Linked DNA regions of Homo sapiens: region 1 is linked to region 2. Evidence: fine-mapped expression QTL. A gene starts in region 2. The other region holds a variant in brackets. All regions are shown on one strand. Distances are from middle to middle. Region 1 overlaps LOC105369322 (a long non-coding RNA gene). Region 2 holds the start of MS4A15 (membrane spanning 4-domains A15).

Region 1 (8,332 bases), 69 kb before region 2:
GCCTCCCAGGTTCAAGCAATTCACGTGCCTCAGCCTTCTGAGTAGCTGGAATTACAGGCGTGCGCCACCATGCCTGGCTAACTTGTGTATTTTTTGTAGAGACGAGGTTTTGCCATGTAGGCCAGGCTGGTCTCGAATTCCTGACTTTAAGTGATCTGCCTGCCTCGGTCTCCCAAAGTGCTGGGATTACAAGCGTGAGCCACTGTGCCTGGCCGCATTCATGAAAATATTTTTATTTAACAGCTTCTCACTTAGCAGCAGGGTTTCCAGTAACAAATCCATTAAGTGGGGGAACAGGTGGATACTTGTCCATCCACACATACAGACGTGAGACACCTAGGGTCCCTGCTGTGCACACACACGGACAAGATATGCAACTTTAGTCACTAAATCCTGGTGGATGTGACCCAAGCCACATGTCAACTTTTTGTTGACAGCAAAACAGCGACATTGAGGGATGTTTCTTAGACAGAAAGAGCAGACCCATCTCCATGCTGGGGTGTGTATGAGGATGGGGGTAGTGACCTCTGGGGCTGGGTGTTACAAAGGGAAGGCCAACCCTGCAGCCAGGAGAAGGGGAAGATCGCAGAGCCCCAGAGGTCAGATGCTGGGAGGAGCTCAGCTCCCAGGATCAGCAGATGCCTTGAGTGCAGGCTGTGGCTGGGGGCTGTGGGGCCTGGTGGGTGGATCCTGGGAGTGGCTGCTGTGGCCGTGGGAAGTTCCTGAGCTGGGTTCAGGTACTGGAGTCGGGAGAAGAAGGAAGGGCCAAGGCCACTCGCCTTTAGTCAGCCCAGAAGCAGCCCATGTGACCCTGTGATCCTTTTAGGTTTTCCTTCTGTGCTTTCTCTGGCGATCCAGGCTTTCCTCTCTGCCCACAGCCCTCCACAGACCACGTGGTGGTAGCCTGAGCCCCCAGACCTTGTGCTTTGGGCTGAGTCCTTCTTGTAGCTCTGGTCTTCCCTGAGGAGAAGGTTGCCCGGGAGTCGTACCTGGATTCTGGGGATGGATGTGATCTCAGCCAGGTCACCTTAGTTCTCTGGGCCTCAGTTTCCTCATCTGTGACACGTGGTCAGTCTCTTCCCTGCCCCTTCAGGCCTGTCATGAGGGTCGGGGGAAGGAGCTTGTGGAAGCCCCTTGATGGAGGGAGCTGCTGTAACCACCGTCTCCCAGCGCATGTAAGGCTATAGTTGTCAGCCAGGATCCAGAAGCCTCACCGCTGCCCTTCCTTCCTGCAGCATCGGCTGCCACCACCAGAATCTGGCGGCACCATGCGGCACTTGTCCTAGTCAGTTCTACCTTGGTGCTGAGCTATAAGCTTTTGTAAACATCTTCTTCCCTAGCCACCTCCCTGTTCTCACATGTCCTTCAAGACAGCATCTCCCCAGTGTAGACCAAGTGGGGCTCAGCACGGCCATGGTACAGATGGTTTAGGATGGCAGGAGGGGTTCTGCCTGCCACTCCCCACACAGCCCTCTTGTTGTCCCTCCTCCCTCGGCTCCCCTGTCCAGGCTCTGGGGATCGAGTGAGGGCCTGCCTGTCCTGCAGAGACCTTGCCAACCCACTCACCAGCTGGGTGTAGCAGAAGGTGGCATGGAAGCCCAGGAAGGTAGACAAGAAGGCGATGCCTAGTGCCAGGATGGTGAAGAACAGCAGCAGCACCGAGAGACTCTTCCAGGGCACCTGCAAAACCAGGGTGCAAAGCCTGCAAAAACTGGGCAGTTTTACAGGCCAGCCAGTCCCGGAATCAGTCTGCAGATTCTGACCAAGGAGATGGATAAAAGAAGGGAAGCTTTCTAGAAGGGGAGTGACCTGTCATCTAGTGAGCACCTGTTACGTGCTTATTTTAATCTTAGTTGCCTTATTAGATAGCTACTCTGATTAGCCCCATTTCACAGAGGATGAAACAGAGGTTCAGAAAAATTGAGGTACTTGTCCAAAGCCACACAGCTGGTATGTGAAAGCTGGGATTCAGACCCATCCAATTCCAAGACCCATGTGGTCAACCATTCAGACTGACACCCATCAGCAAAAAAGTACAGAAAGGTCAAGTAAGAAAATACATGGAAAAGCATGTATTTGGCAGTAAGCTACTGGCGGCTGCCCTGAGAGGGCTTGAGGTCTGTAGAGACGGGAGAGGAGGAGATGGAGTCCGTAGGAGATTGTTGCTGTGAAAGGGAAGAGAGGGGAGACCACAGTCAGAGAGGGACACGGGGTCTCCGGGACTTGAGTTTCTGGACCAGAGGAGAGGGAGAGGCATGGATGGAGGAGAGAGCAGCTAGGGAAGGTGAACACAGTGGACTAGGGTCGTGGGGGCCTAGGAGGAATGATTTGTCCTCTACTGATAAGGAAAGCACAGAGAGGGGCTGGGTGAAGATCAGTTTCACGTGAGGTCACGGGCAGGAAGTTGAGTCTTGGGGCCGTTCAGGGACCCCAGGCTACAGGGGAAGGTCGGGGATTCTGGGGCAGCTGGGTCACTGAAGTGGTCAAAGTGTGGGCAGCAGTGGGCAGTGTGTCCCTCGCCCCTGCATGGTGTGTCAGACCCACCTGAAGAGAGTGTTTCTCCTTTCCTCTCTTTCCCTAGGATGAGAGCAGAGGAAACTCCTCCCCCAGTATTCCCAGCCCCATTTTTGCCACGTCCAGGTCCCTGGTAGCAATCTCATGACATAATCACATGTCTTTGAAAAGATGTGACCTCAATGGCCACAGCCAGAAGGCAGGACTCACTGATAAATCTTAGGTATTATTATGCTGGCAGTCCTCCTAATGCACCCTTGACCTCTATGCTCTTACAGGGGAACGTCCTTGGTAGGAGGCAAGCAGCTGGAATATCTTCCTCCAAGCAAATGATTATTATTTTTTTTAAGAAACAGGGGCTCACTCTGTTACCCAGGCTGGAGTGCAGTGGCATGATTATAACTCACCGCAGCCTTGAACTCATGGGCTCAAGCAATCCTCCCACTTCAGCCTTCCAAGTAGCTGGGACTACAGGCCTGCACCAACATACCTGGCTAATTTTTTTCAAAAAAATATTTTTGGTTGAGAGTGGGCCTCACCATGTTTCTCAGGCTAGTCTCAAACTCCTGGGTTCAAGCGATCCTCCCGCCTTGGCCTCCTAAAGAGCCACCACATCAGCATTAACACAGGAAAAACTAGTCCAGAGGGAAGTACCTGGGGCTGTCAAATCCTGGTGGAGTTCTGCCTCAGGGAATCTGGAGGTAATTGCTAAACACTTAAACCCTACTCCCAAAAGCTGGGTGTCATGGTACCTGCCTGGAGTCCCAGCCACTCAGGAGGCTTAGGCAGGAGAATCGCTGGAGCCCAGGAGTTTGAGGACAGCATGAGCAAGTTAGCGAGGCTCTGTCTGTATTTAAAGAAAAAAAAAATCCCACTCCCCATTTTAACTTTGACAATAGAGGATAAGAAAATATCTCTTGGTGGTGGTTTCTAGGATTAAATGGTGCCCAAAGAGTGGATGCTTATTCTCTGGGCCTGAGACACTGATCTGGGTATAGTTGTTGCTGGCAGCCAGCTCAACCATGAAGGCACACACCCCGAGGCTGGCACACAGTGAGCTGACCAGGTTTGGCCCTGTGCTGACCTTCACCTGCTAAGGAGACCGGAGCCCGAGTTACTACCCAGCGGGAAGGGGAGAGTGCTGGCTCACATGCCCTCTGTGTTGCGGGCTTCCTTTGCACGCTTTTGATCCTGGAGGAACCACTGACTTGCCCTAGGAGCCAGGAACCAGTGACCAAGGTGACAGCATCTCTGCTCCACCTGCTGGAGCCCATGGGCCACAGAGGCTATGTCAGCCTTAATAGCCAGGAGATGGATTTGTTGCAGGAGCACAGACAGCAACATGTGTGGCCACTTCTTCCTGCAAAGTCCATGGCAGACAACATCCATCAATCCTCAGAACCCACCAGGGCCGCATCGATAGAAAAGCTATTTGCCATCTTTTGTGGGTTGAATTGTATCCCCCCAAAAGATATGTTGAAGTCTTAACCCTGGTACCTGTGAATGGGATCTATTTGGAAATAGGGTCTTTGCAGATGTAATCGAGTTAAGATGAGGTCATAATGGATTATGACTGGTGTCCTTAGAAGAAGGGAAGGGACACAGGGAGAACAGCCCCTGATGACAGAGGCAGAGACTGGCAGGATGTGTCTACGAGCCAAGGAACACCAAGAGTTGCCAGCAACCACTGGAAGCTGGGACGAGGCCAGAAAGCATTATCCCCAAGAGCCTTCAGAGAGAACTCGATCCTGCCAGCACCTTGAC[T/C]TTGGGCTTCCAGCCTCCAGAATCATAGACTACAGGTTTCTGTTTTCTTTCTTTTTTTTTTTTTTCTTGAGATGGAGTCTCACTCTTGCCCAGGCACGATCTAAGCTTACTGCAACCTCTGCCTCCTGGGCTTAAGCAATTCTCCTGCCTCAGTCTCCCGAGTAGCTGGGATTACAGGCAACTGCCACCACGCCTGGCTAATTTTTGTATTTTTAGTAGAGGCGGGGTTTCATCATGTTGGCCAGGCTGGTCTCGAACTCCTGACCTCAAGTGATCCGCCTGCCTCGGCCTCCCAAAGTGCTGGGATTACAGGCATGAGCTACCAGGCCCGGCCATGTTTCTGTTGTTTTAAGCTACCTGGTGTGTGGTAATTGGTTACAGCAGCCCTAGGATTCTAGTTTCCTAGGTTCAAAACAGACGGCTCTGGTGGGGATGGAGTCCCCTTTCTGGAGGTCGAACCAGGAGGTCCAGCAAGTTTAATGCCATTTGGGTCTGCATGCAACCTATCCGATTAGGGGTGACTTGCTGAGGTCCAGGCTGTATTAAAGGCATGGAGGAGCTGTGGTAAAGGAGAGGAGACTAGAAACAGACTCAAATTAGATACAGGAAGCTTCTATAGGACAGGAGGATGGTCAGGAGCTCAGACCTGCCAGTGAGTAGGATTGCGGACAAAGGCCCACTCCCTACTCGCCCACCATCCTGTGGAAAGGCCCCACAAGCATCCACTTTCATATAAGGTCTTCCAGGATAAGCTGTGCCCAGAGGCAGAAGAAATGTCTATGAAACTCACCCGGGGAACTGTGCAGTTTGCTGAGATGACCAGGGTGGTTGCTCCTGAAACTAAGAACTGCACAGAGAGGCAGGGAGATTGATGGTCTCAGGGAGCCCAGAGGCACCTGCCTCCTGGAAACCCTAATGCAGGGAAGGTTTGCCATGAGCATTTATGGCTTGGCACAGTGGGCCATGTACCAAGTGTCATGCGCGTCCGTGTGAAGAGAGTCCATCAAACAGGCTTTGTGTGAGCAACAAGGCTGTTTATTTCACCCAGGTGCAGGTGGGCTGAGTCCGAAAAAGGAGTCAGTAAAGGGTGGTGGGATTATCATTAGTTCTTACAGGTTTGGGATAGGCGAACAAAGTACCTTCTTAAGGGTACTTTGAATATTACAAAGTACCTTCTTAAGGGTACTTTGAATATTACAAAGTACCTTCTTAAGGGTACTTTGAATATTACAAAGTACCTTCTTAAGGGTACTTTGAATATTACAAAGTACCTTCTTAAGGGTACTTTGAATATTACAAAGTGGTACTTTGAATATTACAAAGTACCTTCTTAAGGGCAGGGGAGAATATATTGTGTCAGTTAGGGTGGGGCAGGAACAAATCACAATGGTGGAATGTCATCAGTTAAGACTATTTTCACTTCTTTTGTGGATCTTCAGTTGCTTCAGGCCATCTGGATGTATACATGCAGGTCACAGGGAAAATGATGGCTTAGCTTGGGCTCAGAGGCCTGACAACAGGGAGTAATGGGGCTTATGGGAACAGAGAAAGGCATCTAGTCCTCCCCACTGGGCTCTGCATAGGTTGGTGAGATAGGATTTTAGAAGGGGGCCACTAAAGATTCCTAGGTACCTGCCGGGCATGGTGGCTCATGCCTGTAATCCCAGCACATTGGGAGGCCAAGGCAGGCAGATCACCTGAGGTCAGGAGTTTAAGACCAGCCTGGCCAACGTGGCGAAACCCTGTCTCTACTAAAAATACAAAAATTAGCCGGGAATGCCCGAAAGATTCCTAGGTAACTGGTCCAGTACTTTTCAAACTTGACAGAGGACATGAGCGCCTAGGGATCTTGTTAAGCTGCAGACTGACTCAGCCCGTGTACGGTGGGGCTTAAATTCTGCATTTATTTATTTATTTATTTATTTATTTTTATTTTTAATTTTTTTTTTGAGATGGAGTCTCCCTCTTGCTCTGTCGCCAGGCTGGAGTGCAGTGGCGCAATCTCGTCTCACTGCAACCTCTGCCTCCCAGGTTCAAGCGATTCTCCTGCCTCAGCCTCCTAAGTAGCTGAGACTACAGGTCTGTGTCACCATGCCCAGCTAATTTTTATATTTTTAGTAGAGATGGAGTTTCTCCATGTTGGCCAGGATGGTCTTGATCTCTTGACCTCGTGATCCTGCCCGCCTCGGCCTGCCAAAGTGCTGGGATTACAGGCGTGAGTCACCATGCCTGGCCTGCATTTTTTTTTTTAAGAGACAGGGTCTTGCTCTCTGGCCCAGGCTGGAATGCAGTGGCACCATCATAGCTCACTGCAGCCTCCAACTCCTGGGCTCAAGTGAACCTCCTGCCTCAGCCTCCTGAGTAGCTGGGACTACAGGTATGTACCACCATACCCAGCTAGTTTTCCTTTTTAATTTTTTTTTCCTTTTTTATATCTTGTTGCATATCAACATTTTTTATTTTTAGTAGAGACAAGGTCGTGCTATGTTGCTCAGGTGTTCTCAAACTCCTTGCCTCAAGAGATCCTCCCCTCAGCCTCCCAAAGCTCTGGGATTGCAGGCTTGAGCCACTGGAGCTGGCCTGAGACTCTGCATTTCTAACAAGCTCCCAGGTGATGCCAAAGATGCTGGTCTCTGGCCCATGCTTGGAGGTGGGAGGGACTAGTCTCTCATTTTGAAGATGGAGAAACTAAGACTGAGAGAAGGAGGCAACCTGCCTAAGTCACAGGGCTGCTAAGTGATAGATCTGGATCTAGAAATCAAGTCCCAGGGGCTTTTGTTTCATTGTAGTGGCTGAGCGCCTTGACTTGAGTGTTACCCTCGGGGTAAGTCCCCAGGGACACCACCTTTCTCCTTCCTCGGCTGCATATATTGGGGCAGAGGCCCTTTGCCACGACTCCCCCCACCACACGCTGTGAACCAGCTTCAGCTCTTTAGCTGGCCGCCTCAACAGCCCAGTGCCTCCCCTGGGCCATCCAATCCCATGTGGGGTGGGCCTGGAACTTCCCCTCGAGCTCAGAACAGTTCCACCCCCTGCAGCTTCACTCCCACTTCACAGACTCAAACTCCCTCCCAAGGGTGCAGGGAGGATCTGCAGTCCTGGTCTTTGCAGTCCTCTCTGTCTCTGGGCCACCACCAAGTGGGATCTCCAGGGTCCTCAGGAGCACTCCTCCTGCCAGCGGGTACAAGTAAGTGGTGGGGAACTCGGTGGAGCTCGAGGAGGCAGCCAGGATGCGGCCCGCCCCCCAACCTGCCAGCCACCAGTTGCCAGCAGCTGATAATGATCTGCAGGGCCTGGGGGTGGAGGGGGGAGGGCGCAGAGCTAAAGCCTTGGGCTTTCGGGGTTGGGGCTGTGTCTCCCAGGACTTGAGTGGCTGGGCAGGTCTCTGTGCACATGTCTCTGCCGAAAAGGATCTTAGACAAACTCCCCATCCACCTCCTTCCTTGGCAGCCAAGAAAACAGAGGCCTGGAGAGAATAAGAACCTTGCCAACTTCCCCAGCCAGTGAGGGCAGGCGCAGAACCAGGCCTCTTCGTCCCAGGGGCACCGCAGGATTGCAGAACCCTAGAAAGCTTGGGTGAGGGCCATCTCAGGCATCAAGCCCAACACATTGGTTACCTCCAAGGTGCTGGCCCTGAGTGCACCGAGCTTGCTCTGTGCACCAAGTCATTTAGCTCTCACCACACCCATGAATGGAGCAGCACCCTGCTCATGGCATTCTAGGGACGAAGCTGGGGTCTCAGAGTGGGATCGGAGCCTGCCTCTGCCCATGTTCCCTAAGCCTCCATACCGCACATGCAAGCCTGTCCTTCCAGGGCACAGGGTTGACTCAGCCTAGGCTGAAGCCCAGAAGTTTGCGATCATTTGTCTCAAATAGGCTTCTCTGACCTGAGAGCAGCACTTTGACCTCACCCTCAACACTCCACCTCTCTGTCACCCAAGAGGAGTAGCTTCTCCCAGCAGGCTCCGCTCCTCCCATCGTTTCGTGCTCAACGGCAAGGTAAAAGAGACCTCATTTTCAAAACTGGGACCCAGAGCCACACATGCAGAGAACG
Region 2 (8,332 bases):
GAGCAACTGCATCTTTAGTTTTTTCTCCGGCATGGGGATAGCATGTATTAGGTCTATATAAGTGTCCACAGTAACATGGAGAGATTTAAAACGTCCAAAGGGTGGATACTGAGTAACATCAGTTTGCCAGATAGCATTAGGCACCAGACCTCGTGGGTTGGCACCAAGTCCTAAGGAAAAAGGGGAAAGAGAATGCCATTGGCAATCAGGATAAGTTTTAATAATCATGTGAGCTTGAGCAAGTGTTAAATGAAACTGTTGTTTAAGACTGCAGGCGTTCTGATGGAAAAAAAGCATGATCAGCTTGAATTCGCAAAAAAGCAGGAGAGTCTGCAAACCACATCTGTGTGTGTACCAGAGCATTAGCTCGAGCGTTCCCTTCTGATAAGGGACCAGGTAGCCCAGAATGAGAGTGAATATGTGTGATGTAAAGAGGGTGATGATCGAAGGGGGCTTGCCCCTCCACACCTGTGGGTATTTCTCGTCAGGTGGAGACAAGAGACTGAGAAAAGAAATAAGACACAAAGTACAGAGAAAGAACGGTGGGCCCAGGGGTCCGGCACACTCAGCATGCGAGGAACTGCACCGGCGCCGGTCTCCGAGTTCCCTCAGGGTTTATTGATTACTATTTTCACTATCTTGGCATGGGGGGTGCGGCAGAAGAACAGGGTGAACAGGGTGATGGTGGGGAGAAGGTCAGCAGGAAAACATGTGAGTAAGGGAATCTGCATCATAAATAAGTTCAAGGGAAGGTACTGTGCCCAGATGTGCACGTAGGCTAGATTTATGTTTCTCTTTACCCAAACATCTCAGTTAGTAAAGAGTAACAGAGCAGTATTGCTGCCAGCATATCTCGCCTCCAGCCACAGGGCAGTTTTCTCCTATCTCAGAATAGAACGAATAGTCGGCTTTACACCGAGACATTCCATTCCCAGGGACATGTGGGAAACAGAGGACTTCCTCTTATCTCAACCACAAAGAGGCCTTCCTCTTTTACTAATCCTCCTCAGCACAGACCCTTTACGGGTGTCGGGCTAGGGGATGGTAAGGTCTTTCCAATCCCACGAGGCCATATCTCGGGCTGTCTCAGTCGGGGGAAACCTTGGACAACACCCAGGCTTTCTTGGGCAGAGGTCCCTGCGGCTTTCCGCAGTGCATCGTGTCCCTGGTTAATAGAGAATGGAGAATGGCGATGACTTTTACCAAGCATACTGTCTGCAAACATATAGTTAACAAGGCACATCCTGCATACCCCTAAATCCCTTAAACCTTGATTCAGTACAGCACATGTTTCTGTGAGCACAGGGTTGGGGCTAAAGTTACAGGTTAACAGCGTCTCAAAGCATAACAATTTTTCTTTGTACAGATCAAAATGGAGTTTCTTTTGTCTTCCTTTTCTACATAGGCACAGTAACAGTCTGATCTCTCTTTCTTTTCCCCACAATGATGGTCACAGAGGAGCTCTTACGCTGCAAGAAACAAAGCTAGTAGGGGTTCATTAGTAATGCCCTTCACATGTGCAAGATCTAAATGAGTAATACTACACACCGCATAAGCGGAATCACTAACTATGTTTATGTCTTGGTGAGGAAAAGTTTGTAAGGCCAATATCAGGGCACCTAACTCTGCCTGTTGCGTGGTTTTAAAATGTTCCTGGATTTTGTGCTGCCATTTTTGCATGGCCTATTGCCACACTGTAGCTGCTCTTCCAGTTTTTCCTAAACCATCTGTAAAGACAGTAGTGGCATGAAGCAAGGGCTCAGAAACAACAATAGATACAAATTTAACAGGCACAGTTTGTAAAAAGTTCAGGAGCTTAGAGGCTGGTAAATGAAAGCTGATATTACCAATAAAGTCAGCTATTGCGATTTGCCAATCAAGAGCACAAGCTAGAAGAGTATGAAATTGTTTTTTGCTTAAAGGTAGGAAAACAGTAGCAGGGTTATTTTTGCCATATGCCTGGTTAGGTCACAATTACAATATGTGGTTCCGGTCATTATTGCAGCAAAAGTTTGAGTCAGATGAGTTGTAGTGCCTATATTTTGGCATGCTTTAATAAACACACTGATTTCAGTGGCAGTGGCTTAGACTGGAGTTATTGCTGTCTGACAATCCTTATTTGCTTTTTCAAAAGCCAATTGTAACATAAGAAGTTTGGTAGCCTTAGGATGGGATACCTGTTTTTCAATTGCAGCTTGCAGTCGGTTGATAAATTTAATGTATGTTTCTGTGGCACCTTGTTTAACTGTTATAAAGGAACCCTGGGATTGTCTTACGGGATTTTTTTTTTTTATGTTTGTATTGCTAGCTGTGAGCATTGAGGAAATAGATGGCCACCTGCTTGACCCTGAGTCTGAGCTGAAGCAAAAGGCCCTGTTCCCAATAGCATATCAAGTTGTATCGGGATATTATTATCCAAATTTTGCAAGGACTGCTGCATGGCTAAATCACTGTACTCACTCCACCACACAGTATATTCTGCAGCTGAAACCAAAACATTTACCAAAGTTTTCCAATCATGTGGAGTCATCTTATAGCCATTTCCCAGAGCCTCAATCACCTCCTTCGTAAACGGTGAATGTACACTGTTTTCACGGATACTTTTCTTTAACTCTTTAAAGACAGTAAAAGGCAAACTCTCATGCCATCTCCTGTTGCTTTGAACAATAACAGGGAATGCGCCAAAAAGCGCCTCAGAGTCTCCCTTCCTAAGTCCCTCTTGGAGGCACCCCTCTACTAAGAAAGTTTGACGAGGAGTTGGCGTTGAGGACACGGCCACCCGATCATATAGATATTCACTGACTGGAGGTCTTATCCAAGAACCATCTCTTGGGCGGCCTCCAGACTCCTCAAGGGGGATGGGAGGCGCCATTGCCTGAACGGGGCCAACGAATACAGGTCCCTTTAAGGGTGGAGGAAAAGAGGGCAATGGCTTTTCTATAGGGGGAGGAAAAGGCTCCGGTCCGTCCTCATGATCACTAGAAAAAAATATCCTCCTTATGCCCTACAGAAGGGAATGAAGTAGAGAGAGGACCCCCCGCCCGCCTCCCGCTGTCCTGGTTGGCTCCTGTTCTTCCTTCTCCTTTAAACCTCCTGAATTCCCTTCAGGCAAAGACGGGCGGTCTGACCCACTGCAATCTGGCAGATAAAGAGGATACAACACCGAGTGTACCGGCGCCCAGGTGGTCAAAACAATAACCTCAGTAAAATGACCTTGCTCACATCCTGTTTTCAGGCAGTGACCTACCTGCTCCATAACTCAAGTCTAAGGTTCCTTGATCAGGAAACCAAGGGCATTCCTGCCGAATTAAGATCATAGCGTTGTGTAGAGCTCCAGGCTCTGCAGTGCACTGGTTAGCCTTAAGTAGCTGTCGCACTGTTTTTAAAAAACACTTTCTGTTCTTTGGTCATTTCTTGACCCATGATAATCCAACCCCTGATATTTTACGCGTGGGTCCCATCCTCCTGACGGGAGTCAGGACTGTCCCTTACCGGGATTCCCCGAAAATTGATGAGTTTTCCTCCTTCAAGCGTAACTTCAAGGCGATCACGTCGGGGTCACCACTTGCAGAGCTTATAGCTTGCAGTGAACGCCAAGAATGAGTTCTTAGACAATTTCAGCTGAAGGGGGCTGGGAGAGGGGGTGGGGGCAGCTCTTCTGAGAGCCCGCCCTTGTGAGAGCCTGCCCTAGCATCTGTCCGCCAAGTATTTATTGAAAGGGATTGTTAAACCACAAACATCCACTAGATGGCTTTTTGAGGTGGGGTCATGAGACACCTGCGGCCTTGCAAAAGCTCTCAAACCACATTCTTAGGAGGCTGTTTTCAGCGTTCCTTATGACACACTTCACTCCTTGTCCTGTTTTTAGGGCCAAGGAGTTACATTCTTATGCACAAATAACATACACACAGTGCCTCCGTATTTTTCCATGCCCTGACCTCAAATGCCACGTACATAAGCTTGGATATGTTGCCATGTACCCCAACACTTTAGGTGTGGCTGGCCTGGGCAAACACTTTGGGAAAAAACACCCATTACCCAGGTGTCAGGAGATGAGCTTACCAGGAAACAACAGAGTGCTGAATCTGCCAGATTATACAATGAGATCGAAAACAGTCATCCTTCTTGTTGGCATGGGTGTGTGAGGAGTTTACCAGTTCAGTGTAAGGGTCTGAGATAGAAGCCAGGGTTTGAATTCTGGCTCCTCTTGTTACTGTGAGGCACGGGAGCGAGAGGGTCACCCTCTGCCTCAGTTTCCTTACCTGTGAAATAGGGATAATACCAATCTCATAGAGTTTGGTGGGAAACACACACCAACTTGATAAAATCCATCCCTTACAACGTGACTTGTTATAACACGATGCGGCTGAGATGTTTTGTTAAATATAACATATCTAAGCCAGTGACTTACAATGGACCGTGGATGTGCATTGCTTCCCAGTGCTCTGAGACCTACTATGCATGCTCGGGAGAGCACCAGCTTGCAGATTGTGCAGCAGATTCTCTGTGGTTCTGCAAGCGCTCTTGGCTGATAAGGGCTCAGCCTCACTGTTCTGTGCTCAAAATATGTGTGTCTTCAGGAAGCCTCTGTGCCATTTATTTTGTGATAGGTCTGACCTATATTGGTGAACAAAGGGGGCAAGGGACAGCGTTGGACCCTATGCAGAGAAATAGAGCGAAAAGGACACATAGGCTCTTGAGCAAGGTTTTCAGTGACTGGAGGCACCTCCAAGGAGATGGCTGAGAAAACACAGGATAAGAATCTGCTGGCATTAAGGGGTGGGGGAAGCCATTTGACATTTTTAAGGGCTTACTAACATGGCTCCCTTCAGCCTAGGAGGTGTGACCAACACGTGATGCTCAGAGTGGATCACCAGAGGGATTGTGCTGTGACTTCCCAAATAGCACCGTCTCCACTGAGTCTCTCATTTCCAGGATCTGACACTAACCTGATTATTAGTAGACATGACAACTACTCAGAGCAGGGTTGGCAAACTTTTTTCAAGAATCAGATAGTAGGCCGGGCACGGCGGCTCACGGCTGTAATCCCAGCACTTTGGGAGGCCAAGACGGGTGGATCACAAGGTCAGGAGATTGAGACCATCCTGGCTAATATGGTGAAACCCTGTCTCTACTAAAAATACAAAAAATTAGCCGGGCGTGTTGGCGGGTGCCTGTAGTCTCGGGAGGCTGAGGCAGGAGAATGGTGTGAACCTGGGAGGCGGAGCTTGCAGTAAGCCGAGATCGCGCCACTGCGCTCCAGCCTGGGTGACAGAGCGCGACTCCATCTCAAAAGAAAAAAAAAAAAAGAGAGAATCAGATAGTAAATATTTTGGGCTTTGGGGACCCATATAACTTCGATTGCAAACACGTGACTCTTCCATTGTAGTGCAAAGCAGACATAGGCAATATATACCCAAATGGGTGTGGCTGTGTTCCAATAAAACTTTATTTATGCCTGGGTGCAGTGGCTCATGTCTGTAATCCCAGCACTTTGGCAGGCTGAGGTGGGCAGATTGGTTGAGCTCAGGAGTTTGAGACCAGCCTGGGCAACATGGTGAAACCTCACCCCTACCAAAAAAAAATACAAAAAAATAGCCAGGTGTGGTGGCACACACATGTCGCAGCTGCTCGTGAGGCTGAGGTGGGAGGATCTCTTGAGCCCCGGAGGTCAAGGCTGCAGTGACCTGAGACTGCGCCCCTGCACTGCAGCCTGAGTGACAGAGTGAGAACTTGTCTCAAACAAAACAAAACAAAAACTTATTTACAGAAACAGATGGTGAGCCAGGTCTGATCTGTGGGCTGTAATTTGCCAACCCCATTCTTAGAACACTGCCTGGCACATAGTAAACACTCATTAAATTTTAGCTATTGCTTCAACTTGCATGTCTCAGCCTCCAGAACTGTGAGGCATAAATTTCTGTTCTATATAAATTACCCAGTCTCAGGTGTTCTGTTATAGCAGCACAAAATGGACGTATTTGGAAAGACTATATAGTTTCTGAGGACATTGCTAAATATTGCCTATCCTAGTTGTTTATCTTGATTATTTGCTGTGATTTTGGGCAAAATGTGAAATGGCACTGAGCTAGTCTACATTTCCATAAAATAAAAATAAAGATACTGAAGGCTGCTCACTGTGCCTCAGTTTATTGTGAGGGTCGAAAATGGTAAGAAAGTCCTTGGAGATTGGTGAGGTGCTGTGAATGTTTTGGGGTTCACTTTTGGGGGAGGGTTTCAAGATGATGTTGCTAATGATCCTATCTCATCACTCACCTCTCTGGAACTTTCTTTTTTTTTTTTTTGAGATGGAGTCTTGCTCTGTCACCCAGGCTGGAGTGCAATGGCGCAATCTGGGCTCACTGCAACCACCACCTCCCAGGTTCAAGCAATTCTCCTGCCTTAGCCTCCCAAGTAGCTAGGACTGTAGGCGTCACCAACATGCCCAGCTAATTTTTGTATTTTTAGTAGAGACAGGATTTGGCCATGCTGCCCAGGATGGTCTTGAACTCCTGACCTCAGGTGATCCACCCACCTTGGTCTCCCAAAGTGCTGGGATTACAGGTACAAGCCACTGCGCTTGGCCCTCTCTGGAACTTTCTAAACCAATTAACAGTGATAGAGCCCCACATTGTTTCTGCACTGGTGCCAGGTTAATAAGAGCTTATCATAAACATTTTTTGAGGACTTGCTCTTTCCTAGGCACTTCAAATAAGTTATTTCTTATCCTCACAATGGTCCTTTGATAATTCCTGAAAGTTTTTTTTACGGCTGTGATAACCTCGGTTCAGGGCAGTGAAAGGACTTGCTCAAGGTGATATATCATGAAATGGCTGAGCTGGGATTCAAGTCCAAGTTTGGCCATCCGCAGAGTCTGCATCTGTGCCCCCTATTGCTGTCTCCAGTGCCAGACACAACTGTTATCTCCCTATTGTTCCCAGCCCTTACATTCTGGGTGCCTTCAAGTTTGGCATGGCCACGTGACTTGTTTTGGTTAAACCAATGCAAGTGGAAGTAAACGCATAGCTTCTGGGTGGAGCATTTAGGTGTCAGCACGTGACTCTGCAGGGCTCTTTTTCCCTTTGTCACAGTGACTATCAGTGTTCCAGGCAGAGCCTGCCTTATCCATCTGGGTCCCTGAGTGAACAGAGCCTCCAGGAGACATAGAACAGAAGGAAGAAATAAACCTTTGTTGTGTTAAGCCACTCAGCTGTTTGTTATAGCAGCATAACTTAAGTTTCTCCTGATTGTTATATTTTCCCAGAATGAATCCATACAGGAGTAAAACACAAAGTCCATGTCCTCAAAGGACTTAGAGTTTAGTAGGAGGAGCAAGAGCAGTTTGCAATTCAGTCCAACAAACAATTGTTAAGTGTTTACTATGAGCACCAAGTTCAGGGACTGGGAATGCAACGATGAATTAAGGCTGGATGTCCTGCTCTCAGAGACTAGCAAGGTAGAGGAGGCTCGGTGGGGGGAGGGAGAAGGGTTCCTGATTGTGGAACTCAGGGATGTCTTCAGGGAGGACGTGGACCCAAAACAAGGGTCCTCTGCCTGCTCCCCTGCTGTCCCCATCTCCCTTGCCCCACGCTCCTTCTCTTTCCTTTTTCTCTCTTCTTCAATCTCTTTCTTCTTCCCCACCTTCTGTGGTTTGAATGTGTCCCCTCCAAAATTCATGTTGAAACTTAATCTCCATCGTGATGGCATTAGGAGGTGGGGCCTTTTGGAAAATGGTTAAGTCATGAGGGCTCTGCCTTATTAGTAGACTCATGCCTTATAAAAGGCAGAGAGGGAACTAGCTTAGGTCCTTTTGCCCTTATGCCTTCCATCATGTGAAGACACAGCATTTGTCCCCCACGGAAGATGCCGCAACAAAGCGCCACCTCGGAAGTAAGTGAGGAATGGGGCTCTCACCAGACACCAAATCTGCTGGCACCTTGATCTTGGACATCTCAGCCTCCAGAGCTGTGAGGCATACATTTCTGAAGTTTATAAATTATCCAGTCTTGGGTATTCTGTGATAGCAGCACAAAATGGACATATCTGGGGAGACTCTACAGTTTCTGAGGACATTGCTAGAGATTGCCTTGGCTGGGAGTCCATGAACACTGGACAAGAGAAACACATGGCAGAATAATGAAGAACTTGGGGTGAGGGGGGACCCACCCCGCCCATCGGTCTTTCCCTTCCTCAGATGTAATAATGAACATTTACAGCCCGCATCTCACTCTAAGGGAGAGGCAGGCATGGATTATTACGTGTGATTTAGAGATAAGAAAACAGAAGTTCAGAGAGGACGAGTATTTTCCTTCCAGTTGCACAGCACCTCAGC

Evidence for each region.
Region 1: its variant is fine-mapped to the expression of MS4A15 in lung (TOPMed, PIP 0.93).

Annotation. Positions count from the first base shown.
Region 1 is chr11:60,821,219-60,829,550 of GRCh38, reverse strand. All of the region lies in intron 2 of LOC105369322 (a long non-coding RNA gene), which reads left to right. Among named protein-coding and RNA genes, the nearest start is that of CCDC86, 17 kb to the left of the region's middle. The variant T/C (reference allele first, on the strand shown) is at 4,279.
Region 2 is chr11:60,752,219-60,760,550 of GRCh38, reverse strand. It overlaps MS4A15 (membrane spanning 4-domains A15), which reads right to left and starts at 3,684. Exons shown (of 7, transcript NM_001098835.2): 1 at 3,493-3,684. RefSeq lists a silencer at 6,863-7,074.